Regions from separate parts of the Homo sapiens genome. Here region 1 is linked to region 2. Evidence: fine-mapped expression QTL. A gene starts in region 2. The other region holds a variant in brackets. All regions are shown on one strand. Distances are between the middles of the regions. Region 1 has its middle 63 kb from the start of BRCC3. Region 2 holds the start of BRCC3 (BRCA1/BRCA2-containing complex subunit 3).

Region 1 (17,583 bases), 66 kb before region 2:
AAAAAGCTTATTCTTTATCCTACCTAGCAGATTAAGGATCCCTTCATTATAAGCTGCAAAGAGACAAAGAGAATCTTTAAAGAGGAGCATAAAAGCAGCATGTATTATACCATTAGTTAGTTCATCAGGATTTGCCTGAAAATTAAATAAAAACGTAACCAATTAACACCACAGTTAGAAAATTATTTCTCCTACCTATAGTTACAGGATGCTATTTACTATATTTTTTAACAAAATTTATAAAGCTCTTATGTTGCATTAAACTGGGTTTGAATAACTGGAAGTGTGTTTAGCAGCTCTTCAGTATTCATAGTTTCTTATCACACAATCTGTCCTATAAAAGATAAAAGAAATTCATGAACCTCAATAATTAAGAGTTTGAGAAGCTCTGTGACATCAGCATCTTGAAATAGGGCTGTTTTTGACAAACTACAAAGCAGGCCACATGTAAGCTTCAGTACTTCTTGCTTACAAACTAATGATATTTACTGACCCTCTCTTGGTTTTTGTGATGTCAGATGAGATCATTCTATATGCGAGTGACTTTTCATTCAAGTACTTGCTGTATCGTCTGATGAAGTTGACATAGTATAGCCTAAAAATGAGATATTTCGATTATTTCCAATTCAACCAACAGTAGCTTTTTACAATATGTCAATAAATGCAAAGACTTATTCCACATTCACCTGTATACTTCAACAATATCTTTGAAGCACAAAAGCTAGAATGGCCTTTATTAATCACCTACTCCAACATTCTTCCAGCTTTCTGTTAAAGATTAATTTTTATTTCCTTAGAGCTTTGATATCATCCCTTAATGGGATATTGATGGTGACATTCCTGAACAGATGAAATAATTGAACTGTATCAGCTCCTTCGACATTTTCACAGAAACTATTATAAATTGTTAGCATTTTCCTTACTCTCGTCATCCCACTGCCACCATCCCTCCTCCCCTCTCCCTCCACTCAGCAAATGACCTGCAGCCTACTTCATAGAGAAAAAGGAGAAGAAAGGCCATGGTACAAACTCAACTACTCTCTACTCGACCTCCAAATGTATGCTGATTCCCCTTCAATTTATTCATTCATTAAACAATCACTGAGTGCCTACTATAAGCCAGGCGATGTATTAAGTGCTGGAAGTTCAGCAGTGAAAAAAACAGACAAATATTCCTGCCCTCATAGGGCTTACATTTCAATGGGAAATGACAGACAATTATGTTAAAAAAAAAAAAAAAAAAGGAACACAGAGACAGTCAGGGAGAAGGGGAAAGAATAAACCCAGGCAGAGAACTGGTGTAAAGGTGCTGCAATTTTTGGTAGGCTGGACAAGGCTTCACTGAGCAAAGACCTGTAGGTCTCATTAACTTTTCTGTCTCTAGCATATGGCATATTCTGTTATTCTTAGTAAGCTCCAAATATACGTTGTATCAATGAATTTGGGGATTATTTACATTCTTAAAATGTATAGCACATCGCAGCCTTCATAATTTAGACACTTTTTTAACTAGGCACAATTTTCAGAACTTTTCCCTCTTTGGCATATGGAAATATTTCCATCAAAGAATCATCTTACCTTCTATGACACTTTTATCCAGGAAATTGTGTAAAGTGAACAAAGAGCTCTGACATGAAACATGTTTAATGAAACGCTGTCAAACAAATGTGCCAAATTCTAAAATTAGTTTCTGTACACACAAAAAGTTCCTTAATGATTGTCATTATGAATGTATACTTAATTCTATCGTTCACCTTGTATCTATTTCAGGAACATTGATTAAGTTGCGCACAATCACATCCTGTGCTGGCCAACATAAAGATTTGCAGCTGCCAACTCTCCTCTATTTATATACCCCCCAAATAAACAAGGAGTTAAACATTAAAGCTCATGTGAATACACACTGTTTCCCTCTAAGACTTTCTATTTAGCCATGCCCCACTCTTGATTTTGAGTAATTTTAAGTTACGGAAGTATACAAATAATAATATGATACATCTGTGGACCCCACTACCTAGAAATGATAACTGCTAACTTTCTGACATATCTGCTTCAAGTCTATTATTAAAATAAGAGAAAATAAATGATTACGGATAAAGCCCCATCCCTGAGATCCATTTCCTGCTTCTACCTAGAAGTAACTGGTATCATAATTTTAATGCATTATCTTTATAATCTATTTTCCTCATAGTTTCACATGTATTTGTTCCATGGACAAGTACTGTGTGTATTTTAAATTTTTTACGTAAGTAGTTTTGCACTCTAAGTGTCATTCTACAATTTGCTTCTTCTATTAGCATTGTTTTTGAGGTCTAGCCTTACTGGTATACAATCTCATTTAATGTAATACAGCATTTTATTGTATAACTACACTAAATTTTATCTGTTCTCTAGTGATGGAAATTTAGGTGATTTCTAGTTTTTCATTATTATAAACATGATGTGAGAAGTGGATTTGCTGAGTCACTGGGATGGGCATTTTCAACTTTCTAAATGTGTCTCAATGTTCTCCGCTCCACAGTGATAAACTGCAGCAGCTACATGTATCCACAGAGTATGTGAATTCCCATTACCTCAATGTCCTCCCAACTATTCATACTGTCAGAAATTTTAATTTTTGCTAATATGAGCATGTTCTCAGATGATTATTAGACATTCTGTTTTCCTTTTCTATAAACCCTCTGTTCATTTCTTTTGCTCATTAGTCTATTGTAGTGCCTTTTTCTTACTAATTATGTATTCTGAATATTAACCTTTAGTCTATAGTATATATGTTGCAAATATCTTCTTTTAACTATGGCGCCTTCCCTACCCAAATGTCATAAGCATATTCTCCTACATTTTCTTCAATTTTATCTATTTTTTGAATTTAGATATTTCATCCATGTGGAATTTATTTTTGTATATGGGGTAACATAAGCATCTCATTCTCATTTTTTCCATAGGGATGCTGCTTGTGCCAATAGGCTTTATTTTAAATTCCTTCCCCCATGCTTTTCCCCACATTTTTTAGTGCCACCAAGTTCCCATATAAGTGTAGTTCTATAACCAAGCTCTCTATTGTGTTCCATTTATATATATGTTCTATTTTTTACCAGTACTCTGCTGTGTAATTACTGTTGCTTTATAATGAGTTTCAAAATCCAGTCAATTTCTAAACCCTGATTTTTTAATACAAAACTTACTGAGGGAAAATGCCTGTGAATTTAAAGTAGAAAATAATAAGTAATTTAATGTTATGGAGCATTCCAGTTGTTCTGTAAAATATAGAGAGATGGGTAGGTGATGAGGTAATATGCTTAGGTGTAGTCTCTCCTGTCAAAGTAAAGCAAGTATGAGGTAACACATTTCTAAGGGGCTTTTTGGGGTCTAAATCCTCTAAAGAATTGACAGAAATATCCACTCTATTATGGACATTGTTATCCAGTGGCTATTTCATCAGTGACTAAAATGATACACCTCAAAGAATACTGATCACAAAGATATATTCATTAATAAAAACAGATAAAAATATTTTAAATACATACTGCTATTCACTTCTCTCACTTGCCACTAATTAAAGTAAAAGGTAGTAAGCCCTTGACAAACCAAGAACATTTTGCAATTGCATGCTTACGCTCACCTCATTTCCGTGCACCATGAGGTGATGTACAGTAACCAGGGCTTTGAACACCACCACCCAGCTACTGCTCCTAGTTTTTTCAGAAAGAACATTAGCCAGATGTTCAACGCTTATGTTAGTTTCACTGATGTACTGTATTAGATCTAAATTAGAGACAATGACAAGCATTAGAATACAGACTGAGAAATAATTTTCAAAACCAAAATTGGTAATTTTAACTTAAGTACAGATGCAATCAAATGTTGGAGAAATGACATAGGGAATCCTCAAAAACATTTTCTTCATTACATGTATTACAATTTGCACTGTTATATGTTACATGATATTTAATGCCTTTAGTTATCTTGCATACTTGATGAGGGGAGGGAATGAATCCATTTTGGTCCTCAAGGCCCAGCAAAGCAGATGGCACATAACAGGTTTTGGTCAATACTTATTAAATGAATGAACAGTACTGAAGAAGGTAACATACCCAAGATCATACAGGTAGTTAAATGGCAGGGCTGGGATTTGAAACTAGATTTGTTTGACCCTAGAGACCAAGCTATTAACCACTGTCACTACTTCTCTCAAGAAAACTGTCATTCCATGAAGGTTCAGTTAGGAACTTTCTTTGTACTGTCACTCCATCTCTGATCCTTTTATCTGCATCCCGTATCCTTTTATTTATTGCTTCTTTTTCTTGAGTCCACTACCTCATAACTTTGTACCTAGTTTATTGTGACAGCTTTTAAATTTCTGGCCTCATGCCTATAACCATTCATGAATTCATTTCATACAGCCCCTCAAAAGTTAAGTTTCATAATTTGATTTTCACATTCAAGAACATGGCAATGATTCCCTACTTTTTACCAGTTCAAAATCCTCTTTGCTTTCAAAACTGTCTACAAACTATGATTATGGCACAACTTCATCCATGGCACTTATTCATTAATGAGCATTTCTTTAGGTCTTCAGAAGCCAATTCTGGCATATATTACATAAGTATCCAGGACTGTATAATATATACAGAGAATCTAGTATGTGGCCTGCTGAGAATGATGCTTTGCAAACATATATATATATATATATATATATATATATATATATATATGAAATTAATCTCTATTTAACTTAGTAACTTGCTGTAACACATGCACATTAGCACGATGATAAGAAGATAAAACTTCAGAAGGCAAATACAGATTAAGTCAATGAATAGTTTAAGCAAAATACCAACATAAAGGGGTGATCAAAACAGTGAGCTAGCTGTGAAGCTTTCAATAGCTGTAAAATTTAAGTATACTCTGCCAATAGCACACATTGTTTATCAAGTCACTGCTCACTACAAGCTCAAACAACAGGGAATGGGGCTAGACTGGGTAGACTGGGAGTCTATCCTTTGAGCAACGGGTCACTCTAGGAATCAAAAATCTTCCTCCTAGAAACATACACAGGGCACAAAAATTGTGCCATGGACACTCTAAAGCCTATTCATGGACGTTAGGTTAGGAATACCTAAGGGAGAATCTATTCAATAGACTTTCCTTCAGAAGACTCGCTGAATGTTACAATTTATAAGGGCACTGGGGTGAACTTGGGAAATGAGACCTTTCTAAGAAGCCTGGGTTATTATTCCACCCTCTTTGTCTCCTATCTTAGTTGAATAATTTCTAAATATTTTGGAATTTGTAGTTAAAAACACCAGAGGTCGCTGTGGGAGGCTGAGGCAGGCGGATCACCTGAGGTCAGGAGTTCCGAGAGCAGCCTGACCAACATGGAGAAACCCCGTCTCTACTAAAAATACCAAATTAGTTGAGCGTGGTGGCGGGCTGCTGTAGTGCCAGCTAGTCAGGAGGCTGAGGCAGGAGAATCGCTTGAACCAGGGAGGCAGAGGTTGCAGTGAGCTGAGATCGCACCACTGCACTCCAGCCTGCAACACAGCGAGACTCTGTCTCAAAAAACAAAAAACAAACAAACAAACAACCCACCAGAGGTTCCCCTCTCTGCTCAAAGATTACTAGAAATGACAGCTCAAACTCCCCCTCCTGCAGGGACGTGGAAAAGGGGAGGGCACTGAGGGGAGGGGGAGGGGGAGGGGGAGGGGGAGGGGGGAGCGGAAGGAGAAAAGGTGCAGCCATTAGGAGGTTCTTCCCCACTCAGACTGCACTAGCTGCGTGGGCTGCCCATACCCGGCCTCCTACTCACCAGCCAGTTTCGGCTCAGGCTCCATGGGCTCATCGGTGGTCGCCCCGAGGGCAGCCTTGGACGCAGATAACCCCATGTGCGAGTCGAGGGTGATGGCGACAGAGTCCAGCCCCACCTCTTCCAGACCCTGAGCAGGGTACCGGCACCCCTGGTTTTGGACAAGGAGCCCCAGGTGACGGAAGAAATGCCTGACCCTGCAGGGAGCCCTCAGCGGGCGACCTTACTTCATGCAGCCTGACGCAGACATCCAGCATTATGAGGTGGGATTTGAACTTGCGAGGAGCTCGGGCTCTGCAAGAATGCTGGGAAAGATGGCTGCCCGGCCCAAGAAGGCAGGTACCACGCACTTGCTTGGTTTCTGAGGGCAAGTCCAGGTTTGGGGCAGGGCATCTCTGGAGGAGCTAGGGCGCTTTGCATAGTACATGCCACAGTAACAAAATAAACAACAACCATTAACGAATATTATGAGGAACGGGGACATGTTGGGGACTCCATATGAAAGCTCTCGAGATCTTCAGGTCTTGGGAAGTTAGGTGATCCTATGACAGTACCTTGGAAATTCTTGATATGGCATTGTTAGGGAAGCTTCAGTCACACATTATCAGGGCTGCAGCCTGCTTGAGGTCATGTCTTCCTACTCTTCAGGCAGCACCAGATTCACAAGTCCATAGAGTTGTTCATAGTATTTCTTTATTATCCTTCTAATATCTGTAGACTCTTTACCGATGTTACTTCTCTCACTCTTCATATTGGTAATGTATGTTCTTTTTTTCTCTTGATTGGTCTGCCTAAAGAGTTAATTGTGTTGATCTCAAAGAACCAACTTTTGGTTCCATGGGATTTCTCTATTTTCTGTTTCTATTTCATGAACTTATGCTTTTTATTATTTCCTTTCTTCTACTTGCTTTGGGTTTATTTTGCTCTTTATTTTCTGGTTTCTTAAGGTAGAAGGCTAGGTTTCCGACTTGATGTATTGCTTCTTTTATAATATAGACATTTACTGCTAAATACTGCTTTTGTTGTCTAAACACCTTTTTCTGACTTTGGTCTTTTAAAATTTGAGATTTATTTTATGGCACAGAATATGGTCTATCAAGGTAAATGTTCTTTTTTTGTTTTTTGAGACGGAGTCTCGCTTTGTCGCCCTGGCTGGAGTGCAGTGGCGGGATCTCCGCTCACTGCAAGCTCCGCCTCCCGGGTTCACGCCATTCTCCTGCCTCAGCCTCCCCAGTAGCTGGGACTACAGGTGCCCGCCACCATGCCTCACTAATTTTCTGTATCTTTATTAGAGATAGGGTTACACTGTGTTAGCCAGGATGGTCTCGATCTCCTGACCTCGTGATCCGCCCGCCTCGGCCTCCCAAAGTGCTGGCATTACAGACGTGAGCCACCGCGCCCAGCCATAAATGTTCTTTGTAAACTTGAAAAGATGTATATTCTTCTATTATTGAGTGGAGTGTTCCAATTAAATGTGTATTACACTCAGTGATTTTGTTGTTGTTGTTTTGTTAGTGAGAGAGGGTTCTGCTCTGTCGCCCAGCCAGGCTGGAGTGCAATGGTGCAATCTCGGTTCACTGCAACCTCTGCCTCCTGGGCTCAAGCCATCCTCCCACCTCAGCCTCCTGAGTAGCTGGGACTACAGCCATGTGCCACCACACCCAGCTAATTTTTGTATGTTTTGTAGAGATGGGGGGTTTTGCCATGTTGTCCAGGCTAGTCTCAAACTCCTAAGCTCAAGTGATCTGCCCGCCTGGGCCTCCCAAAGTGCTGGCATTACAGGCGTGAGCCACCACGTCTGGCCACTTCTTGATGATCGTATCACAGTTCACCAAAGCTCTGTTCATTTCCATTTTTTAAGAGCCTTCCTCCTACCCTATGCTTCAGTTTGGAGATTTTCTTTTGTTATGCCTTCAAATTCACGGATCTTTTCTTCTGCAGAGTCTGATTTGCTGTTAATCCCATCTAGAACATGTTGCGTTTCTAATATTGCATGTTTCATCTCTAGAAGTTCCATTTGGTTCTTTTTATATTATTCAACATAATGAGAGTAATGAAAGATTTTAAAAGAATGAACATTCTCCTTTAAACCCTTGTGGATATTATAATAGTTATAATGGTTATTTTTAAATATTTGCTAATTCCATCATCTTGGGCATTTCTTGGCCTGTTCCTATTGACTTATTTTTGTCTCGTGTATGGGTCACATTTTTCTGCTTCTTCCTATACCTAGTAATTGCTGATTGGATGCCAGATACTGTTCATTTTGCTTTGTTGAGTGTTGTATGTTCATGTATTCCTTTAAGGAATGTTGAAGTTTGTTTAGACATGCACACACATTACTTTTAAATCACATCTTTCTAAGGCATATTTTCTTAAATGGCTTTATTGATATTTAATTCACATATATCTTCGTTATGAGAAAAGCCTGGCACTGTAACATTCCCTCAAACTGGGCCCCCCAAACTGGGAAGGAGCCAAGGTACCAAAGAAGTCCATCTTAGGAGTTTATTAGGACTTACATACAGGGCACTCCTGGGCAGCAGCAGGACAACTCCAGAGATCTGCCCTGCCTCCCATCTCTAAGCTGCTTTTAAGCTAATTTCCTGGCTCTTTGCCTACTGTGTGCAATGAGACTGTTTGCTGTAGTGGGTTCCCAGATCCATTCCAGGATGTTTGGGTTCTCAAGGACACCTGCTCCTAGGCTGGGCACCATGGCCTTGGCTCACCGCCAAGCCTTGAAGTTTCAAGCCGTGGACATACACTCTTAAGTAACATGGTGGGGGGCCCACCACACTACAACTTTTCCCTCATTTCGTGTAAAATTCAGTAGTTTTTAGTATATTCATAGAGTTGTGCAACTATCACCAAGATCAATCTACAGCCTTTCCACCACTTGCAAAAGAAACCCCGTACCCATTTGTTTTGACAACCCCCAGCTAAATTGGGTTTCCAGTACCAGAGCAGCTAGCAACCCTGCCCAAACTCTGCAGCTTTGAAGAGCTCATTTATTAGCTCTAATAGGTTTTGTGTGTGTGTGTGCATGCATTCTTTAGGGTTCTCCCTATATAATATCAAGCCATTTGCAAATAGATACAGTTTTACATCTCCTTTCCAATTTGGGTGTCTTCCCCTGCCCTCAACTGCCCTGGCTAGAATCTCTAGTACAATATTAAAGTGGCAGGAAACAGCATCCTTGTCTTGATTCTGATCTTATGCAGAAATAATTCAGTCTTTCACCATTAAGTATGATATTAGCTGTGGGTTATTCATATATGGCCTTTATCAGGTTGGGGAAGTTCCTTCCTCTTTGTAGTTTGTTGAGTCTTTTTCTCATGAAAACGTGTTGGCTTATGTCAAATGCTTATCCTGCACCTGTTGAGATGATCATGCAGTTTTAGTCCTTTACTCATTTAATCTGGTGTATTATATCGATTGATTCTTGTATGTTGAACTGTCCATGCACTCTTAGGAAAATTGTCACATGGTAATGGGGCCTCATTCTTTTTATATGTTGCTGGATTAGGTTTCCTAGGATTTTGTTGAGGAATTTTACATCTATATTCATAAAGAATTATTGGTGTCTAGTTTTCTTTCCATATGATGTCTTTGTCTGGTTTTGGTATCAGGGTAGTATTGTTCTCATAGAATGAGTTGAGAAGTATTTCCTCTTCTGTTTTTGAAGAGCTTGTAAAGAACTGCTGTTAATTCTGAACTGGTATATGAATTCAAATGTTTGGCAGAATTCACCAGTGAAGCCATCTGGTCCTGGGCTTTTACTGGTGGAAAGTTTTAAAACCAGTAATTCAATCTCTTTACTTCTCATAAGTTTATTCAGATTTTTTGTTTATTGGTAGGTCAGCTTTGGTGGTTTTTGTTTTTCTAAAAATTTGTCTACTTCATCTATGTTATCTAATTTATTGTAATATAAACTGAATTGTTGAATTCAGTTTGTTAGTATTTTATTGAGGATTTTTGCATCAATATTCATCAGAGATACTGGCCTATAGTTTTCTTAATGTATCTTTGTCTGGTTTTGGTATCAGGGTAATAACCCAGGGATTAGAATAAAAAAATCTTAGAAATTTACCTGATGCTCTGTTCTACTGTGGTTTAGCTGGCACTTAAACCACAAGACGAAGTACTTCCCACTCTTCCCTCCCCCTTCCACAGGCAGAGGTGCCTCTCCCTGTGGCCACGACCAACCCTGTCCCTTGGGGGGCTCTTCCAGGCCATTTCCAACATTCACTTAAAGCTCCAGGGCTCTTCATTCAGCTTGTGGTGAATGCTGCCAGGTCTGGGACTCACCCTTCAGGGCAGGGGGCTCCCCTCTGGCCCAGAGCAGGTCCAGAAATGCTGTCCAAGAGCCTCCTCATTGTTCTACCACATTGTAGCTGAGCTGGTACCTAAGGAGCAAGACAAAGTTCCCTTTACTTTTTCCTCTGCTTTTCTCAAACAGGAGCCTCTCATTGTAGCCACCACAGCTGGGAATGTGCTGAGTCTTACTTGAAGACAGCACATCTCAGAGCCCAAGGCCCACAGTATATTCCCTAGGTATTGCTGCTGGTTATTCAAAGCTCAAGGGCTCTTTAGTCAGCAGGTGACGAATCCTGCCAAAACTGGATTCTTCCCTTCAAGACAGTGGGTTCCTTCTTAGCCCAGGGTGTGTCTAGAAATGTTGTCCATGAGCTAGGGCCTGGAATGGGGGCCTCATGACTGCCCAGTGCTCTATCCTACTGTGGCTGAGCTGGTATCCAAGATGCAAGACAAAGTCCTCTTTACTCTTCTCTCCTTAAACATTTCCTTGATGCTAGCTGCACTGCTTGGTGTTGAGGGAGGGGTACTGCAAGCACTCCATTAGGTATGTGTCTCACTAGGTCATGTGCCACCCTAGTCCACAGCTCAGCACTAGGACTCACCTGGGAATTGCAGTCCTTGTGTCCTAGACTGCCTTCCAAATTTACCTAGAACCCCAGAGCACTTTGGCCCATGGTGGCGAGGCCTGCAAAAACTTAAGGTCTGACCACTGGGAAGGGCAATTCCCCTCTGGTTAGGTCTGGTCCATATGCTCCCTACCTGCAAATGCATGGTCGCTACCAGGAGATGGAGGAGGGGTGCTGTCTGTGAGTCAAGACTGTCTCTCCTATCCTCTTCAATGACTCTCAGAAATATTAAGTTAAAACCAGGTACTGTGATTGCTTACCTGATTTTTGGTTCTTGTGACGATGCTTTTGTGTGTGCAGATAATTGTTAAAATTTCGTGTTTCTGTGTGGGGAGGGAGGATGAATGGCATAGGCTTCTATTCTACCATCTTGCTTTGCCCCTTTGGATATAATTCCCGTTTTCTTTTTGTAAGGTTTGTAGTATTGTCTCCTATTTCATTCCCAATTTTAGAAATTTGAATCTTTTATTCATAGTCAGTCTAGCTATAGGATTGTCAGTTTTGTTGATCTTTTCAGCAAACCAACTTTTGGTTTTATTGATTTTTCTCTATTGTTTTCCTGTTCCCTGTCATTTGTTACCACCCTAACCTTTATTATATCCTTCCCTCTGCTAGCTTTGGAATTAATTTGCTTTTTTTCAGTTCCTTAAGCTGAGAAGTTGGGTTATTAATTTGAAATCCTTTCTCTTTTTTACTGTAGGCATTTATAGATATAAATTTCCCCCAAGCGCTGCTTTCATTGCATAAGTTTTGGTTTTTTTTTTTCATTTATCTCAAAGTATTTTCTATTTTCCCTTATGATTTCTTCTTTGACCCAATGGGTATTTAGGAATTTATTGTTTAATTTCCATAACTTGGTGAATTTCCCAAATTTTCTTCTGTTATTGATTTCTAATTTTATTCCATTGTGGAGAGAGAACATACATTGTATAATTTCAGTCCTTTAAATTTATTGAAACTCGTTTTGTGGCCTAACATATGATCTAACTTAGATAATTCTTCATGTTTAGTTGAGGAGTATGTATATTCTGCTGCTATTGTTGGATTAAGTGTCTTATAAGTAAGTTGTCTGTTAGGTCTTCTTGGTTGATAATGTTATTCAGTTCTTCTATTTCCTTGTTTATCATCTACCTAGTTGTTCTATCCACTATTGAAAGTGGTGTATTGAAGTCTCCAACAGTCATTGTTGAATTTTCTATTTCTGCTTTGATGCTGTCAGGTTTTGCTTCATGTATCTTAGGCTCTGTTGTTATGTGCCTATATGCTTATATCATCTTCCTGGTGGATTGACCATTGTAACTTTATAAAATGCCCCTATTTGTCTCTAACATTTTAAAAAATCTATTTTGTCTGATATTAGTTTAGCTGTTCCAGCTGTTATGGTTGCTGTTTGCATGATATATCTTTTCCCATCATCTTAACTTTATTTGTATCTTTGAATTTAAAGTCTGTATCCTGTGAACAGCATATAATAGGATTTTTTTGTGTGTATTCTAATAATCTCACTCATTCATTTATATCTAATTACTGATAAGCGATGATTTATGCCTGTCATTTTGCTCTTTGTTTTCTATATACCTGTGTCTTTTGATCTTCTATTTCTCCATTACTGCCTTCTTTTGTGTTACATATTTTCTAGTATGCCATCTTAATTCTTGTTTCTTTACTATATTTTTAAATTATTTCCTTAGTGGTTGCCCTGGTGATTACAATTAACATCTTAACTTAAAATCATCTGGTTTTAATAAATACCAATTTAATTTCAACCATATTAAAAAAATTTGCTCCAACATGGCTCTATTCTCCTCTCTTTTGGGCTATTATTGTCATACATATTATATATTTTTTACATTATATGCCGATCAACACATCCTAGAATTATTGCTTTATGCAGCTGTCTTCTAAATTAAGTAGAAGAAAAAAGCGTCACAAAAATACAACATACCATGTCTTATATTTATCTATGTAGTTACCTTTACCAATGATATTTATTTCTTTATGTGAATCTGAGTTACAGTCTACTGTCCTTTCATTTCAGCCTGAATAACTCTCTCTAGTATTTCTTCTAAGATAGGTCTGCAATGGCAGTCTCTTGTTTTTCTTTCTGGGAATGTCATTATTTTTTCTTTTTTTTAATTCAATCCAACAGATCCACTGGTAAGGGGATGTCATTATTTTACTTCATTTTTGTAGGATAATTTTGCTGGACATATAATTCTTCACTGACACTTTTTCTTTCAGCACTTTGAATATGTCATCCCACTGCCTTCTGGCCTCTATGATTTCTGACAACAATTTGGCTGTCAATATTATTGACGTTCAGTTGTATGTGATAAGTCATTTCTCTTGCTGCTTCCAAGATTCTGTCATTGGCTTTAGACATTTTGACTATGAAGTGTCTAGGTGTGGGTTTATCCCTCTCAAAATACTTAGAGTTTCTT[G/A]AATATGTAGATTCATAGATTTCATCAAATCTGGGGAGTTTTTGGCCATTACTTCTTTATGCCCCTTCTTTCTTTAGCTAGAACTCCCATTGTGGGTGCATTGTTAAGCTTGATGGTGTCCCACAGGTCTCTGAGGATCTGTTTGTTTTTCTTCATTCTTTTTTCTTTTTGATACTTGGGTCTCTGATAATTGACCTATCTTCAAGTTTACTGATTCTTTCTTCTGCCTGCTCAAATCTGCTGTTAAGTCTCTCTCATGAATTATTCATTTCAGTTATTATAGTTTTTAGCTCCTGAATTTCTATTTTGTTCCTTTTAAAAATTTTATCTTTGTTATCTCTATTTGGCGAGATATCATTTTCCTGATTTAATTGTTTATTCATGGTTTCCTTTTGTTCTTTGAGCATATTTACAACTGTTGATTTAAATTGTCTAGTAAGTCCAAGACCTGGGCTTTGTCTGGGACAGTTTTTATAAACTTTTTTTTCCTGTCAGTGGGCCGTACTTTGTTTCCTTGCATGCCTCATACTTTTTTGTTTAAAACTGGACATTTTGATGTTATAATGTGGTGGCTCTGGAAATCAGATGTCCCTCTCCCCAGGGTTTGCTGTTGTTGTTTAGTGAATCATGTAGCTGGGACTACAGGCACTAAAATTATAAAACCTATACAACATATTAAAGTTTTAGAATTATGTTAAATGAAGAAATCCACATGCAAAACTATAAGATGCATTAATACTAGAAATGAATAACAGAAATAAGAAAGAGAAGACCAAAAGGACTACCAAAAATGAGTTATTTTGAGGAAATTATAGGTTTCTCTTCACATTTTTCAAGTTTCCTTTATTATATTACTTTTGTGATTTTAAAAATCGGACACTTTAATTTTGTATTAAGAAAGTAATACATACTCATTGTAGAAATTCAAAACACAATTTACAGAAGAGTTCAAAGTGAAAAATAAGACTTCCCCCTGGCCTTAAGCTCAGTAGATTTTAAAAAGTAACTTGTTATAAACTTACCAAAAAGTTGGAGGAATAGTACAAAGAACTCCCATGTTCACTTCATCCAGATTGTTCAATTGGTAACACTTCACATTTCTGCAGCATGCATGCGTGCATGTGTGTACCACCATTATCATATGGCTTTTTCTTAACCATTTGAGACCAAGTTGCAGACATGTTCCATCAGTCCTAAACACTCCAGTGTACAATTCTCAAAAACAAAGACACTCTTGTACATAACTACCACATTGTCAAAAAAAGGCCAAGCCCAAGAGTGATTGATTTGGCTTCTAAAGTAATGACATGTCCTTTTAAGATTCAGTTTATTACCTACATAGACAGCAAGAGGAAGATGGGCCAAAGGTGCCAGCTCCCCATGTCCTTGTTCCCTGCACCAAACAGGACTTCTGAAACAAGGCCTGCATGTTTGCTGCACCAGTTATGGGACACTCCCTTGCTGAGGAGCCCCTTTTAGACTGCAGCTAGCAGTTTTATATTCTGTAGCTATACCCTGAGTGGGGCAGAGCAGATAGCCTCAGACCTCAATAGTACTCAGATGAGAAACTGTCTGTCTCAGTGGCAGCCTCCCAGGAGAGATTAGGAGGTTAGAGATAGCCTTGAAACAGCACCTCACCACCCTCCCATCCTCTTGTGTTCTGGGAGGATCATGATACATCCTGCCAAGACTCAGATAAGTTGCAATTCAAGCCTAGCTTGCATAGATATATGCATGCCAGGTCACAAGGGCACCATGGCAGATCCACTCTCTACAGCTCCATCCCTCACTTTTCAAATAGCTAGCTAAGAATTCTCAGGAGCATAGGCCACCCCATCAAATTACTCTAATTAACTGTGCTTATAGGGGCCTTAACCAAATACATTCTGATTGTTTTGGGCAACATATACAAGAATGAGTCTCTAATTAGGCCCACTTGGAGGATACACACTGCAGCTAGGCTCCCCAACTGGAGCCAAGCCAGTTAAATATTTCATTAACCCAGGTGCAGTAAGGGATGCTGACAGTTGCACATATCCTGCCTTGACTGACCAGCAGGAAGTCCTGGGTAATGTGTTATTGTCCCATTACCATGTACATTAGAGACAATAGACCACTTTGTGTGTGGCAAGCTAGTATAGGTAGCTTCTTTTCATGTAAGAAGTTGTAGTGACCTCAGCAGTGCCATTGTGTTGAGTTGGGATCAGGGTCCAATTCTATTAAGCTCTTGTACAAAAGAGTTTTGTTAGTTTCCAGAAAGTTAATCTCATTCTATCGTTCTGAATGGAGGCTGTTAACTACTTGAGTCAGCAGTTCCTGGGAAGTTTCTGAGAGTCCTTAGATTAAGATTTGTTGGCCAGCCATTGAGTTGAAAGTGGTGGTGGCAGTCTGGGCTAAATTGTCCAGAGGCTCTGCAGACAAGTAGCTGAGATGTTAGCGGCCCCTCCTCTGCCTTCACAGAGTTTAAAGTGTGCTCTCTCCACCAGTCAGGACTGTTGCCCTCCTTTCACAGCCATGTGATTGATGTTACCAGTCCTTACAGCAGTCACTTCACCCTTTTCCAGTCCTTTCCTTGTCTTACCTACACCTTGCTCCTAAATTGTGTATTAGTCCATTTTTGCATTGCTATAAAGGAATACCTGAGGGTGGGTAATTTATAAAGAGGTTTAAATGGCTCACAGTTCTGCAGGCTGTACAGAAAACATGGCATCAGCATCTGCATCTGATGAAGGCCTCAGGAGGCTTACAATCATGGTGGAAGGCAAAGGGGGAACTGGTGCCTGCTGCCTGGGAAGCACAGATCTGATGAGTGTGTGGATTCCAGTGATGTTCATCCTCAGGCTCCTGGGTCTTGTGCCATCTGCTGCTGTAATGTTTGTCTCACAGAGGCTGAAACATGATCATCCAGTCATCTTGCTGAAAACTTCCTAAGTCTAGTAAGAGATTTAGACATCCAGATACAGGAAACTCAGAGATCCCCAAATATATACAATTCAAACTGTATAAGGAGTTGGGTCTTTTTTTCTTTTTAAACAAAAGCAGACATTACAATAACCAATAGCTGTTGCAGACCAGGAGCTCATTTTATCTCCTTCGCAGGGAGCTTAGGGAGCACAGGTCAGAGCGGAAGAGGCCAGCCTGCAAGGTCAGCTGGAGCTGCAGGAAAGTTTCTTCTTTTGTGTGTCTTTTAAAAAAATAAACAGCTTTATGGAGACATAATTTATACACAATTCACCCATTTAAAGTGAACAATTTAATGACTTTTAGTATAGTCATAGAGCTGTACAACCATCACTGCAGTCAACTTAGAATATTTTCATCACCTCAAAAAGAAACCTCATCCCTCTTAGCCATCAACCCTCTATCCCTGCTCCCTCCTACCCCTCATTCCTTTTTATGGCCAAATAATATTCCATTGAAGAACAGACTGCATTTTGTTTACCCATTCATTGGTTGATAGACATTTGGGTTGTCTAGTTTTTGTTTAAATTTCTGTCTTCAGTTCTGTGGGATATACACCTAGAAATGCCCTTGCTAGGTCTTATGGTAATTCTGTGTTTAAGTTTTGGAGGAGCCATCAGCCAGTTTTCCAAATTGTCTACACCATTTTATATTCCTACCTGTAGTGTACAAGAGTTCCAATTTCTCCACAGCCTCACCAACACTTGTTATTCTCTTACATTTTTATTCTGGTTAGTATAAAGTCATATCTCATGATTTTTATTTCTCTGGTGACTAGTAACGTCAAGCATCTTTTCATGTGCTTCTTCGCAATTTGTAGGTCTTCTTTGGAAAATTTCTATTTAGGTCCTTTGCCCATTTTTGAATTGTGCTGTTTGGTTTTTGTTGTTTTCAGTGTTCTTTATATATTTTGCATACTAGACTCTTATACATAGGATTTGCAAATATTTTCTGCCATTGTCCTGAGTTTTCACTTTTTGATCATGTCTTTGGATGCACAAAATTTTCTAACTTCCATAAATTCCAATTTATCTATTTTTTATTTGTTGCTTGTACTTTGGTGTCATATCTAAGAATCCATTGTAAAAACCAAGATCGTAAAGATTTACTACTGTTTTCTTATAAAGTTTTTATTGTTTAAGCTCTTGAATTTAAGTCTTCAATACGTTTGGAGTTAATATTCATTTATCGTGTGGGATCTCAGTCCAACTTCATTATTTTGCACGTGGATATCCACTTGTCCATTCGCCAGTTGTTGAAGACTATTCTCTCCCATAGTCTTGGCACCCTTGTTGAAAATCAGTTGACTGTAGATGTGTGGGCTTATTTCTGGACTGTCAATTCAATTCCATTTTTAGTGGAGGGTTTGGAAATCAGCATCTTGGTGCTAGCTGTGCTCATAACCACTGGGTGTCACTTCTAGTCCCTCTTG
Region 2 (14,721 bases):
AAAAAATCTTCATAGAAAAGGCAGACAAGTGTATCCATTCCTTGATTATTGTGGGAAGTGGGGGGAACAGATTTTCTACAGGTGCCGAATGGAAGTAGTAAAGTGTGAATGAGGTGTCTGGGAGACAACTTACCCAACTGATTTAGATACAGAGCTTGAGGTGAAATGGCAGATGGCAAAGCTAAGAAAGTTGGAGTGAGAATGTACAAGACCTCAAATGCCAAGCCATAATTTGCAGGATGAACTCGAAGGAAAAAAAATTATTTCAGATAAACTGTACATGAAGTAACAATGAAGTACTGGGCTAAGCAGATGGCAGAGATGGAAGAAACAGATTTGAGACCCATTAAAAAGAATGAATCTACAAGATTTGGTAGCTTATGGACCATGGGTGATGGTGGACAGGAAACGGTCAAAGAGGACTCTAAAGTTTCAAGGTTGAAACTAGGTAGAACGTGTGAGGCAGATCTAAGTTTAGAAAGGGTCAGGAAGGAAAGAAGATGAGCTTGTTTTCAGATGAGATAATCTGGGATGAGAGATATACAATATGGCAATTTTTAGCAGGCAAGTGGGATTATAGCTTAGACTCAAACAGCATCAATGCAGGAATCAATAAAGCATTTATGAGTGGACAAAAAAGGTGTGGAGAAAGGGAGCAGAGGTCTTGGCCTGAATCAAGGGGAGTGGCCACATTTAGTGTGGGGAAGAACAAGAAGGGCCAGGGGAAAGAGTGGGCTTAGCATTATCAGATGTTGAAGGGACAAGGGTGAAATCTGAGAGAAGGCTTTTGAAACAAGCTATAGATTTTCACTGTGCAACAGGTCTGATTTCAGATATGCAGCAAGTATGAAATACACATGGAATTCAAAGACAACACAAAAGAGAAAAAAGGAATGTAAAATATCTCAACATTTCTTAATATTCACTACATATTAAAATAATAATCCTTCAGATACTTAGGTTAACTAAAATACACCCTTCAAATTAATTTCATTTATTCCTTTTTACTGTGATTACTAAAAAATTTAAAATTATGTATATGGATCACATTCGTGGCTCACATGATATTTCTTTTTTTGTGGTTTATTTTTGTTTTGTTTTTCAACTGAATACTCCACTTAAAAAGATTATCACACTGGATTTTTTAAAAAGTATTTACCACTAATAAGAGACACAAGAGACACATTTTAAATATTAGTATACAGAAAGGCTAAAAATAAAAGGATAAAAAATACACTATGCAACACTAAAAAGGCAGCTTAACTAATAAAGTTTAATATCTAATTTAGACAGTACAAACTGACATAAAACTCAAGACGAGGGCATGAAATCTTGAATAATAAAATTACATTATTAAGATTGGAATGTATCTTAGTAACTGATGCCCAGGGTGAATTGTTTCTTTCTCTCTTTCTTGCTTTAGTCAGAGATTTCAGTGCCTAAGAGGAATGAGTAATATTTAATGCATAGACAGAGGAGGAAGAGGAGTCCACAAAGGATTGTGGGAAGGGGGAAACAGGAATAAAGGCAATACAACAAAACCAACAAAAACTCATGAGAGTTTAGAGATTCAAGGAGAAAGATGAAGATAAGCACCAGGAAATAATCCACCGAAGGTAGAATTAGAAACCAGACCTCAGTGGGTTTGACTGGGGAAGGTGAAGGAGTAGTAATTGTAGCCCATTCTTTTAAGAAGTCTGGCTATTAAAGGAAGGATATAAGAGTACTGACTACAGGAAGATACGGGATTAAGAAGTAGCTTTCCTTTCTGAAAATGAGAGTAATTTAAGCATATGTTTATCCTAAAAGAACCAGGTGACAGGGAGAAGACCCAGAAAAGAGACAGAACATTTGATAAACAAGGTCTCTGAAGAAGCTGCAGCTTTGGATAGGAAGAGGACTTATTTCTTTGATATGGGAAGAGATGCAAAGTGATTAAGGTGGAGAAGTTTGTAACTAGTAGTAATAAGTAGATGAAGGTGTGGCCTGATAACTTGGTGGGAGGAGGGGAAGTAATTCATTTTTTTTGTATTTTACAAAAGCATCGGTCTGTGACAGACTGGGGGAAACGTTAACTGGTCCGATACCACGATTAGGTGAGAAGCATTACACTAGACCATCAAGGCTAGAGCATGCCACAAAAGATGGTGTAGGAGTGCAGATAGGAAAAAAGTCAAGGCAGACTAAGAACTATGATGCTATGGTCAGTTTGCCTGTTTAAGAAGAGAGGGCTGCATGAGTAGATGTTGGAATTCGAGATAAAGAGGTAATAGTGATGTGAAAGTATCAAGGATGCCAAAGTATCAAGGAAAGTGGGAGAAGGGCCAGAAAACAGGCAGTGACAGCAAGGAGAGCAGCAAGAGGGTGGTACTGACAGTGATTATTAATCTTGATCAAGTAGAGACAATTTGCTACAAAGAACAGAAAATTAGGTCCCATTCCTAGTGAGTAGATTCTTCATCTGATTTTACTAGAAAGAATATCTCATCCAGCCAGAAACCGCATACTCTGGCTGAGATCACTGGATTACAGAAATCTTTCCCCAACTGCAAGTTTCCATCATGCAAAATTTTAGCACACATACCTTTTCAGCAACTGTGCGCATTTCAGTTCCAGTATATGCAAATTTGGAGTCACTCCTACTGGGAATAAATTAGAAAAAAAAAAAGGAAGTGGGGTTTGGAATATAAAAAGGAATTAAAGCAAAATAACAGGATTAACTGTTTTTGCAATGAAATCTTAGCAGAGACCAAAGAAGAGGAGGGAAACTGAATTGAGGCTAGAGCTGCACTCTATCTGTTAGAAGCAATCTGGGACACATGCACAAGTGGCTGAGTGTATAAAGTTATAATGGACAAAGCTAAATTCCTGGAATCCTGGGAACTAAGGAGGTGGGCTTGAGAAGTATACTATGGTATGATTTGAAGTTTAAATTAAAATGTTACCGAAAGGTTTCACCACGTCAAGTATTGAAGCTACTGGGGATCTCTGAGATCACTGAGGTCCATCAGGAGGAAAGGCAATGTCACTGTCAATTTACGTGAAGGAATGGATCAATGGGGAAATGCCTCTAAACGTATATGCTCTCTGTCACTAAGAAAATTACTGATATCTCACTGGCATTTAAGGGGAGACAGAACATGAAATACACTGAGCAAGGCCAGGTGTGGTGGCTCACGCCTGAAATTCCAGCACTTGGGGAGGTCGAGGTGGGCAGACTGCTTGAGCCAGGAGTTCGAGACCAGCCTGGCCAACATGGTGAAACCCCGTCTGTACAAAAAAAAAAGACAGCCGGGTGTGGTGGCGGGCACCTGTAATCTCAGCTATTCGGGAGTCTGAAGTATGAGAATCGCTTGAACCTGGGAGGCGGAGGTTGCAGTGAGCAGAGATCGCGCCACTGCACTCCAGCCTGGGCGACAGAGTGAGGCTCTGTCTCACCCCTAAAACGCAACAATTATGATAATGCTTATTAAGATGTTTATCCCATATCTCAACTGAATAGGAGGTAAGGCAGAAACCAAAGTTCAAGGTTGTATCATTAAGGGAGCCCCGGAGTGATAATGGTAATTAATTTAAGACACGATCCGGACACAATACTGCCAAAGTCGCCATAATTTTAGGTTAACAATGACTTAGAGATTATAAGATATGAGTAAACAAATACAGTCTTACCTTGTATCATCGTTCAACTAGAGTGGGAAAAAGCAAAAAACATTATTGATCACATTACGTTTGTTTGACATATATGGATGCAGATTATATGACAATTAGGTCATGTGTTCACGCACATGGTATGAAAGACTGGAGAATTACTTTAGACTGTAAACAGCTAAACTGTATTTCCTCATCCTCTTCGGCCCCTCCTCAACACAATGCAGCGGAAACTTTTGCTTCCTTCAAGCCCCGCACCTTCTGTTAGGCTCTTCGATACCCTTCAAATGCTTTGGTTGATATCTCTGCTCCCTAGACAGAAGACTCGAGGCGAGGCAAGGGGCTCTAACTGTGGTCAGCTGCTGCGTCGTAATACCCGGACATCCTCATTATACTCCAGTGTCTTTCTGACCTGCCTTGCAGTTTTGGTCAACCGGGCGAAAAGCGCAGATCTAAAGAGAAGCCCCAGGCTACAGGAGAAAGGGCAAGGCTCCCGGGGCCTGTACAGACCGCCGGGGGCTCGCAGGAGACTAAACAAGTGTCAGGCGGCCAGAAGAAACGGGGCTCCCCGCGACAGAGCTATGTAAAGGGTGTCCAAGGACCTAAATCGAGGATGCCTGTGGCCTCCGCAGCCCTGGGAGCTGCCGGCACCCACCCCGGGGACACACTGGGACTGCTCAGCAGGGTTCCATCCAGGCTAACAGACCTACTCACCTCCCCTATGCACAGCCCCATTACTTCCTCCTTCTCTGTGCTCAGAGCGTGGTTGAGACAAACGAGGAAAGCGTCAGACTCGAGATGAACCGCCTGCACCGCCTGCACCACCTGCACCGCCATCTTGGCCCGACCCTTCTCACGTCCGCCTCGGGCCCACTTGGTCCTGACCAACCGGGTGCTGCGGCGCAGCCTCCCCAGCGCCCAGCGCTGTGCGCTCCGCCCAGGCCTGGCCTTCGGCGCGCGGGTTCCTAGGGGGCGGGGCTTAGGGAGCGGGCGGGGCTGTGGGGGCGGGGCTGTGGGGGCGAGGAGGGGGCAGCGGGCGCGCGGCTGGCGCGCGGGGGCGGGCCTTGGGGCACGGGGGCGGGGCCCGCCCAGCAGCACCTGGGAAACGCCCGCGCGGTTTGGGGCAGGCGTGGCCGTCGGGGCGGAGGGCGGTGGCCGGCCGCGGTCCGGGCGTCAGGCCGGGCGGCGGGGGCGGCAGGGAGGCGGCGCTCTGGGGCCGCAGGCGGACGTACTCTGTGAGCGGCGCCCGGGCGCCTGGGCAGGCGCCTCCCGAGTACCGGCGCCCATTTTGCCCGCCCGCTAAGGAGACCCGTGCGCGGCCTACACGCTTGGGGGACAGCCCTTTAAGACGACATCTCCGCGAACGCCGGCCTCTTGAGCCAGGGGGACGCTCTTTTGAAAGTCAGTCCCAAAACAGTTAAGGTTTTATTTTATTTTGTTTTATTTCCAAGTCACAGCCCCCGAATCTCGTACAACTCTCCCTGGACCACTTCCGGTTGCCGGCCCGCGCCTCATAACTTCGGTTCGAGTGACCTCGGCCCGGGATGCCCCTCGGCTCACCCCGGGCTCACGTCGCGATCCTGGCTTGAGTGGCCCAGGGTGGGAGACCTGGAAGTTTTAGCCTAGCTGTTCTCAAGGCGGATTAATTAGCCCAAGAAACATTATATTCATGTGAGTAACCTTTTGCAGAAACAGTGTTATACTGTATCTGAAAAAGTATCACTCTTAAGCTTGGCTGCTGCTACTTTCTACAAAGGCTTTTAGGTAGCTATTTGTTGGATACAGGGAAGGGGAAATGGAGAACTTCAGTTTTTATTCAAGTTCGGATGTATCACATTAGGTATCCAGAATGCAAGTTTCCTCGGGTCTCCTTGTCTCGATGATATCAGACAGTAAAAATATATGTAAAAGTAATTTTTATTTCGAGGTATGTCAAACGTGCCAAGGATAAAAGTACAGATCTTCCAACTCACAAGTCTAGGAATCACACGTGGATTTTGAAAGCGATTCTAAATCAAAGCACAATATATGCCGTGCCGCCTCCACAGCCCGTCCGTGTTCGTGTCTTTGATTTGGTTTTCTACTTTGTGTAGTTTTGAAGCCAGGCAGGTATGGCAGTACTGGAAAGGGAACATTCCCAAGGTGCTACTTGAAGTGTTGATGCTTTGCTCTTTTCTCCCAAGTCAGTTCCAACCCAAGTCTCCCCACACATAGGGTCCCCATCCAGTGCAACGATCTGTAATGTGCACGCCAGCAGCCTCCGTTTTTACCTAACGATCTGTAAGGATCACATGGCACATCTTTCTATAATTAATTTGATCATGATGAAGGTTGGAAAATTTTCGTGTGCAGTTACATTGGACCTGTCTAAATTTTCTCTTGTTTCAATTTTATATCATATGTTATTTTCAGTTACTGTTTGTGGCTAGTATGCCCCGTCCTCATGGAGCAGGAACGGCTGTTCTTATTATTATGACATTAACATTTGGTGATGGGATATAGTGCCTTTAGGCACTTTCAAGAAGAAAAATACCTTTTGTTTGTTATCGGCGGTAGTCAATCTCATATTCCAGAATGAGGTTCACTAACTTTTCTAATGCTCATGGCTGCCTTTTACAGCTCCAGGCATTTAACTGGAGTAGAACAAAATTATTAACATTTATGGCAAGCTTATTATATGCTAGATACTAAGCATTTATATGCCTGGTACATGTAAACTGCCCCATTTGGAGTCAAGCTCAACAACTTCCCCACTGTGTGACCTTGAGCAAGTTACCTAACTTCTCTGTGCCTTTCTTTTCCTCACCTTTAAGTGGGGATGATAATAATTCTGCCCACCTCATAGCGCCCTATGAAGATTGTGAAAATTAAATGAGTCAATATATGTAAACATATAGGAAATGCTAAATAAAGACTATCATGATTAATATGTTCTTTAATTCTCATTTTACACCTCAGGAAACTGAGGTGGAGAGACGTTAACTTGTCCAAGGTCACAAAGCTAGTAAGTGACAGACTCAGGACTCATACACAGGCCTGGGCCTGTGTTCTTGGTAATTTCACTCATTGTAATTGGACGAGTTTATTAATTGACTTCTAATAAAATAAGTGTATTCAACTGATCAATGTTTAAAAACTGTTCATCAACCTGGCAATTAAAGCAAACTATACTTTTTTAAAAAAGACACAAAAGAATTTATTCTGTAAAGGAAAAATGATAGTTTTACTTAGATTACTACCTAAGGAAGCCCTTCTATCTTATATGTCATCCATTTAAAACCTAATTTACAAAATGCCTTACTAAGAAATTGTCTGTCTTGGCCAGTGTGCTCTCTGGCCCCGAAATCAAGGTGACCCTCATGGGGACAATCTCTTCTAGTGGATGATAAAGTTATGCAGTTATCTAAACATTTTTGGAATTCATTTGTATTTGTAGCTGGCAGTATTCCTTGAGTTGAGTTGCACAAGTTTATATTCCATGTATTGTATTGCACCTTGTACCTAAGTCTATGTTGAGGTTTTAAAAGATTCGTCTTAGTTCGAGAAGTCCTGAATTTTGTAAACAAGTATCATGTGCAAATAAAATGTTCTCTAGTCAAATAAATTTGGGAAATGTTAACATAAAGTTTCTTTACTGCATAACTTGCCAGAACAGTTACTACACTAATGTGCTTTATGACTCTCCAAGATTCCCAAACTTATTTGACCAAGGAAAATGTTGGGAGCAAGTTTTCTAAGAATCACATTTTTCCACTCATAAAACCTGTGATTGTATAGGCTTTGATCTGAATCCCTCTCCCTCAGCCTTTGCATTTCTCTGCTGAGGACTTTGTTCATGCTCATATGGTGACTTCTCTGTCCCTTGATCACTGCAGTTGTCTTTCTCTGGGCCTGCATGCCCTCTGAATGCTAGCACACACAATTCCAGGATACTGTGCTGAGAGGTGGTTCCCAAGCTCATCCCGCTGATGCCCAGCATGTTGACCTTTGGGTCACAGCAGCACATCACACTGCCTTTCTTCTGAGAATATTTTGTAGTGACTCATAGGCCTCTTTGTAGTGACTCAGTAACTCAGACCATCATCTCCAAACTCTTTGCCCTCTATTCCACTGGCATTATTTCCTTTTAATGTCAATATAACCAATGCAATTTTGTTTTCCATTCAAAACAAATTTAAATGTCAACATGTTGGTTGTTGCTAGGACCTATCTATGAAATTGAGATGGTCCTGAAACCCTTAACACATGGTTTCCACTTTTTTAAAACAGTTATTGGCCACACTTAAGTCTTCTGTGCTTGAAATCCGAATTTAATATATTTTATTTTGACATTAGTATTTACCAGGTTTTTATTTGTATTTCTCTTTTCCAAAGCTCTGGGAAGGAAGAGAGGCAAAACAACTGTATCTGCAAATGGGAAAAAAGGGGGGCTTTGGAAAAAAATTATATATAGCCAGAGGCTTATGCCTAGAGAATCAATCTCTACCCACGTATACATAGCCAATCATGACAACCACTGTGGCGTTCCTTTGTTTCCCTTCCCTACCCACCATACATATACACCTGTTCACTGAAACATTGCTTGACCAGTACCTGAGACTTGGGGTGCCCAGAACTGTATCATTCCTGCTATTGAGCAGAATACAATACTGTGCTTTAGGGAAGACAGGACTTGTGAAATAAGCAAAGCAAATGTGTAAGGTGACTTTGTTTAAATATAAATGCTACAGTAGTCAAAAGAGGCAAGAATTTTCTAAAGTTTTCATAGAGGAGGCAGGCACCTGGACTCTGCTATAATAGCACTAAGATAGGCAGAGAGGCCCAGGGAGGCATTTTAGGCAAGTGGAAAACAAGAGCAAGGGTATGGAGCTAGAAATGAGCCTGGTATTTGGGGAAAGTTGGTCTCAACTGCAGTGGTAGTTGTAGTGCCTGCTGGAATTGGTGACATATAGGATGTAGCAACTGAATAAGAGGAAGAAATCCAAGATAATTCATAAGTTTTGAGTCTGCAGGATCAGGAATGGTGGTGTTGCCATTGAGAGAAATCAGGATTTGGTTAAAGAGAAAGTTTAGACGAGTTTGAAATGAGAGAGCACATATGTATGAAAACTAAGACAGGAGCTTACACCAGGCTCAGAGTCAGATGCACTCAGGGTATAATGGGTGAAGCATCTGGTTGCTCTCGACAGTCTCACTTTGAGGACTCTAACAACCACCCTCCCACGCTGCATTTCTTTTCCCACCTAATGAGAATAGCAGGTCTTTGTTTTGAGGGGCAGCTCCCCAGTGCCGTATCTATACTCTGGCCAAAGGTAGAAATACAGTACAACTGCGCTATAATGCTCTGAGTAAGGTCTAGAAGATTGACTCATGCAAAATGCACATCAAGTTATTGTGAGGTCCTGAAATGATATCTGGGGCTTGGGCAGAGGATCGTTATAGAGTTTGCCCTACCACTCAAATGCTTTGGGAGGTATGCTTCCTTTACACCTCTCAAATGTGCTTCTGGTCTTCTGGCTTAGGAAGTCAAAATTTAAACCTAGTCCTCTATGGAAAAATGGGCTCCTGTAACATCCTGCAGAATTATTAAAATAAAACAAGGACCTAGATGGATAACTTTCATTTGCACTCACTCAGCTCCAAATCAGCATGATCCCCAAAGTCTCTTGCAGCTCAGAAATTCCATGAAGCTAGCTTACTTTTCCTAACAAGAAAATCCCCTTCTAGAAATGCCCATCCGCTATTTGTAAACTTTCTTAGTAAACTGATAAATAGATCATTTGCCCTTAAAACAAACTTTTAATTTCAACTCTGAAAGACATGCATATATGTCCTTCAGAATCTTACCTTTTAAAATGGAAACTGCTTGGAAGTGGCTTTTACCTGGGGAATATGACATGCATGTGTCTGTTATACTGCCTTCCTGCCAAAATAAGTGTGTCTTTAGGCACGCTCTTTGCATATTCTATTGCTAACTACATTTTGCCAGACACTGCTTGTGAATGCAGTATGTGTGAGACCACTGCCCAGCTTCCTGTAGTGCTAGTCCTACATTTCCACAGAACTCCTCACCTAGCCAAATTCTTGAGCGCTTTGCAGTCAGCAGCACTACCTGAGGCTCTGCCTGAGTGTCACTTTAGTTGTCTTGCAGAAAGCTTCAGATGTCCTTGGTTCTATTTAGGTTGTGCAAATAGACATATGAGGTTTGGTTCTGGTTAGTGGTTGCTAGTACCAGATCACCTTGCTTACTGGTGAGTTCATTCAAACCCAAAAAGTCACACCTGTGTCCTGTGCGCGGGTGCTGCAGGCTTAGGTGGAGAAAAGCAGGGCTAGAATTGGAACCCAAAGCCCAGAATGGCAGGAGAGGATGTGGGGGCTCCACCCGATCACCTCTGGGTTCACCAAGAGGGTATCTACCGCGACGAATACCAGCGCACGTGGGTGGCCGTCGTGGAAGAGGTAACTGTTTACATTTTGCTTATTTCTTTGATTTTGCTTTCAAGTAACTTGGTTTCTATTCCAGTCTCAATATTCTGAAGTCTTTGGTTTTATTTTTGATCATTCCTTTCCATTAGGAGACGAGTTTCCTAAGGGCACGAGTCCAGCAAATTCAGGTTCCCTTAGGTGACGCAGCTAGGCCAAGTCACCTTCTTACCTCCCAGCTACCTCTCATGTGGCAACTCTACCCGGAGGAGCGCTACATGGATAACAACTCTCGCTTGTGGCAGATACAGCATCATTTAATGGTACACATGTTGCTTAATTATTTTCCATTGTACTGGGACTCTCGTAACAGAGTACTCCATAAACTTTTCTTTTTCTGACAGGTCAGGGGAGTACAGGAGCTGTTGCTTAAGCTTTTGCCTGATGACTAACCTGGTATGTATTTCTATTTCTCCTCTGTCCTCCCCCTCTTTGTTTTGGCTCTATTCAGTTGTGGTGATTTTAATGATTTTTTTTTCCAGGTGCTGGGATTCTACGAAGATATGCTCCTTTGTTCTGTTCAGTATTTGGCAATCACTTCATCCACTACTGCAGTGCACCCACCCTTGGGCCTGGGGGGAGGGAGTGGGTTGAAAAACTGCTCAAGAAACAGAAGTTTAGCAAGGGTCATGAAGAATACTGCAAGTGAAACTGCAGAGAGAGGTTACGTAGGCAGAAAGCAAGTCAACAAAAGCACTTAGTCAGGATCCGTAACTTGAAATTGACTCCTTTGGAAATTGCCATAGAACCCTTAATGGACATCATCGGCTGGACCTGGGATCTGATGAATCCCACAAAAGTCAGCACCTTCTACAGAACAGATGCCCTGATCACCAAGGACTTGGTACTGATTTAGAGAGAAGAGAGCAGCTCCTAGCAGCATCAACATCTATTTGTCGCTTATTTGCCCTGCAGCAATTCACCTGCCTTTCCTTCTCCCATCCTGTAAATATCCTAGGTTTTGCTCCAGTGTTTCCCATCCCAGTACTGACCTAATTTGGATCTGCTGAGTATTTAGAGGGCTCTGAAAAGAGATATGCATTGATGAAATTAGCTACAAAGGCTTGTGGGCCTTTTTTTCTATCTGAAATCGTGTCTTCAAATTACTGGAAGTTGCTGATCAAAATTGTGGGCTCTTGAATTCATTCTCTGATTACAGATATTTTAAATAAGCTGGTTTCTATAAGAACTTCAAGAAAAACCATTTTAGCTGCTTAACTGGCACCTTTCTCAGGAAGTAATAACACCAAATATTGCTGATTCCTAGGAAAACATTTACTACTTGTAAAGAATTTCCTGAGTTAAAGTAGTTATAACAGTTTATATACATTAAAAGTAAGGTTTTACTTTAAAAAAAAAAGTCTTGGGAATAATAGCTACCATGTATTGGAGTCCTTTCCAGGCACTATTGTATGTACTTTATATACTTTATCACATTTAATCCTCCTGTCAATGCTTTGAGGTAGGTATGATTCCCATTTTATATATGAGTAATAAAAAAAGCTCAAGGAGTTTAATCATTTATCAAGGGTTTCTTCTGCGAATGATAGAGCCAGGCTGCGCCGTCGGCTCCTCTAGCCTAACGTTGGTTTACAGTATTCAAAAAGAGTTGATTGAATTCAAGGTTTTTTTTCCATGTAAAGCTATTTATATCTTCCAAGCCTAATGAAATGGATATTATAAAAATACAGTTGATTCATCCTATGTTTGGGAAGAGTATTTTTAGTGTAATTATTTTCCAGCAATTGTAAGGGCATATACTGCTTGTCTCAGAAGAAAATTCCACGTAGAGGGGCTTTAAAGTCTTTATGGAAAAAAGAAAAATAAAAATCATTTTTCTTGTTTTAGTTTTCTGGATATGCCGCAGAAGGATCCGTGCCAGAAGCAAGCCTGTGAGATACAGAAATGTTTACAAGGTAGTATATTGTAAAATGCTTTAAAAATATTTTTCCACTGTGAACTAACTATAAGAGACCAATTATTCTTTTATCTGTATTAACTCTTTTTTAAGAATGTAACGTATATGTAATTATCCTGAAGATTCTCTTCATTGTATCATCAAAGATGCAGAAAATAAAAAGTAATGTGATCAAAGCTAGGGGTTTTCACTCCAGGTGATTAGCATCACCTGGAGATCTTTAAACACTTACCTAGAACAATTCAGACTTCCTAGGGCTAGGGCTAGGAAAAAAAGGGTTTTTTGTTGTTGTTGTTTGTTTTTACTAAAAGGCTAGTTTTAAATTGGTTGGTTATACTTCACTGCAGCTGACAATTCACTTTTTAAAAGCAATCTGGAAGAGGTGCGGTTGAAATAACAATTGGAATTCAGGCTGCCAAAGTCATCAACTAACTCTTAAAGGCAGAAGTGAATCTCGACTAAAGCATATTTGAGGTGATTTGTCCATTTGTCCAGCTGCTAAGTTTGACCAAATGTTAGAGGATTTTAGTTTTCTAATCAGTGAATGACTGTTGCCAGAAGAGCAAATAGAAAAAGCTATAAGGCTATCTGAATTTGAAAAAATTTTAATAAGTTTTCCTCACTAGTAAAGTAATAGATGGAGATGGAAGGTCATGAAAATATAGAAAGGTATGAAGGAAAAATGTTCAGAGTTCCCCCAAAGATTCACCACCAAAGAAATCCTTTGTTTGTGTATCTCCTTGGACTTTTAGCTTTCATTCTTGGACTTTTCATTTTTTGATGTTAGCAATATTTTATAAAATCTTTTAGATTAAAATCTGGATGTATAATAATGCCATTTTAGTCAAACTTCTTCCCTCCAACTTTAAGGAAAAGGAAAAAGTTTTTTGCATTTAATTCCTTCTCCCAAATAAAACCTTACCTTGTTTGAAATAACCCATAGCTAAGGGAAAAAAATAAGTTAAAAAGAGCTGGTGACACCCCCTTGGCAGTGTGGGAGGATTAAGAACTGGAAAGACTAAAAGATGACAAGCACCGTTATAAGGACTTTATACGTATTAAGCCTTTCATCCATGAGGTAGATGCTACTATGACCCCCATTTCATAAAGGGGAAAACAGACACACAAGTTATGTAATTTGACTAGGGTCACATAGCTAGTAAGAGGTATGGTGGGAATTTGAACACCCCCCGCCAACCCCGCCCTTGGTCTAGCTCCAAATCTGGACTGTTACCCACCTTGCTATACTGCCTTTCTAATCAGAATTGTCTTTCCTATCCTGAGCTAACTACCATGTACTCCATTTTAGTACTGGGGGACTCATTAACTGCAGCTGACCTAGAGTCTTTAGGTCAGGTCCTCCTTAACTTAGTGTTTATGTATAGTAGGGATCTGCAAATGTTTTATGAAAAAGGCCAAACAAGTAATATTTTAGGCTTTGGAGGCCAAAGGCCTTTGTTGTATATATTGTGTATGTGTTGTGTGTTTACAACCCTTTAAAAATTAAAATCCATTTTTAGCTCCCAGCTGTAAAAACCGGCTGAATTTGACCCTAAGGCTGCAGTTTGCCAATTCCTGATGCACAGCCTTAGTAGGGGAGGTCCAACAATCAGCTTAAACTGTATGCAAAATAATGTGTGGTGTATGTGCATTTTCCTAATTCATCAAATTAGTGACCAGTAATAAAAATGATGTTAAAAACCAATGTCCTAGAAAAAGGTGCATACATGCTATTAACCTTAAAGGAAATTATATATTAAAATAGCTTTCAACCACTTTGTAAATCATACTTTCCCTAACGAACCTGTCGACAGGTCTCTAAATTAGAAAGAATTCAGTGGACTTTGGTATATCTTCTTTCTTCCAGTTCCATAGGTACTGAAAGTGAAAAGGGGTGGGAAGCACTGATCTAAACCTCCCTGTACCTTAGTCCTATGAGATCATGACTAGAGTCTGCCTGTATGTTTTTCAGCCAACAGCTACATGGAATCAAAGTGTCAGGCTGTCATCCAAGAACTGCGTAAGTGTTGTGCTCAGTATCCCAAGGGAAGATCTGTCGTCTGTTCAGGATTTGAAAAAGAAGAGGAAGAAAACCTAACACGGAAGTCTGCATCAAAGTAAAGTTCTTCTGAAGTGCTGCTCCATGTTTCCACCAAATGAATTTTTTTTATCCTCCTGACTCTTCAGGCCAGGTAGCAGCAAATAGCAAATGAAAAAGTCAGCTACAAAAGTTAATGAATATGCCATCTATGCAGAACAGGCAGAAATATAAACACATTAAAAGACAAATATGTAGAATGTAATATACTGAGCTGCTAAAATAAACCTGTTTAAGAGAAAAATTTGGGTTTTGTACTAAATGTATTTTAAGACTATTAGATATAGGGTATTAATGAATTCTCTTGAAGTTCAAGCCACTAGTGCCATTCATCAAATTTAAGTCATATGAGGTATGTTAGGTGAAAGGACTCACTTCCAGCATCACAATTTTGACGCCCTTTTTTTTTTTTTTTTTTTTTTTTTTGAGATGGAGTCTCACTCTGTCATCCAGGCTACAGTGCAATGGTGCGATCTCGGCCCACCGCAACCTCTGCCTGCCGGGTTCAAGCAATTCTGCCTCAGCCTCCCAAGTAGCTGGGATTATAGGCATGCACCACCACGCCTGGCTA

The links.
Region 1: its variant is fine-mapped to the expression of BRCC3 in blood mononuclear cells (TOPMed, PIP 0.96).

What each region holds. Positions count from the first base shown.
Region 1 is chrX:155,125,401-155,142,983 of GRCh38, reverse strand. No RefSeq gene overlaps it. Among named protein-coding and RNA genes, the nearest start is that of BRCC3, 63 kb to the right of the region's middle. The variant G/A (reference allele first, on the strand shown) is at 13,191.
Region 2 is chrX:155,061,295-155,076,015 of GRCh38, reverse strand. It overlaps BRCC3 (BRCA1/BRCA2-containing complex subunit 3), which reads right to left and starts at 4,508. Exons shown (of 11, transcript NM_001018055.3): 1 at 4,366-4,508; 2 at 3,673-3,689; 3 at 2,585-2,639. The coding sequence starts at 4,488. It overlaps CMC4 (C-X9-C motif containing 4), which reads left to right and starts at 4,880. Exons shown (of 3, transcript NM_001018024.3): 1 at 4,880-5,322; 2 at 11,983-12,050; 3 at 14,025-14,394. The coding sequence starts at 11,993. The coding sequence ends at 14,173. It overlaps MTCP1 (mature T cell proliferation 1), which reads left to right and starts at 4,880. Exons shown (of 5, transcript NM_001018025.4): 1 at 4,880-5,322; 2 at 9,959-10,110; 3 at 10,227-10,397; 4 at 10,479-10,530; 5 at 10,617-11,982. The coding sequence starts at 10,006. The coding sequence ends at 10,526. RefSeq lists enhancers at 3,525-4,246, 4,203-4,252, 4,263-4,482, 4,247-4,968, 4,953-5,252 and a silencer at 4,593-4,912.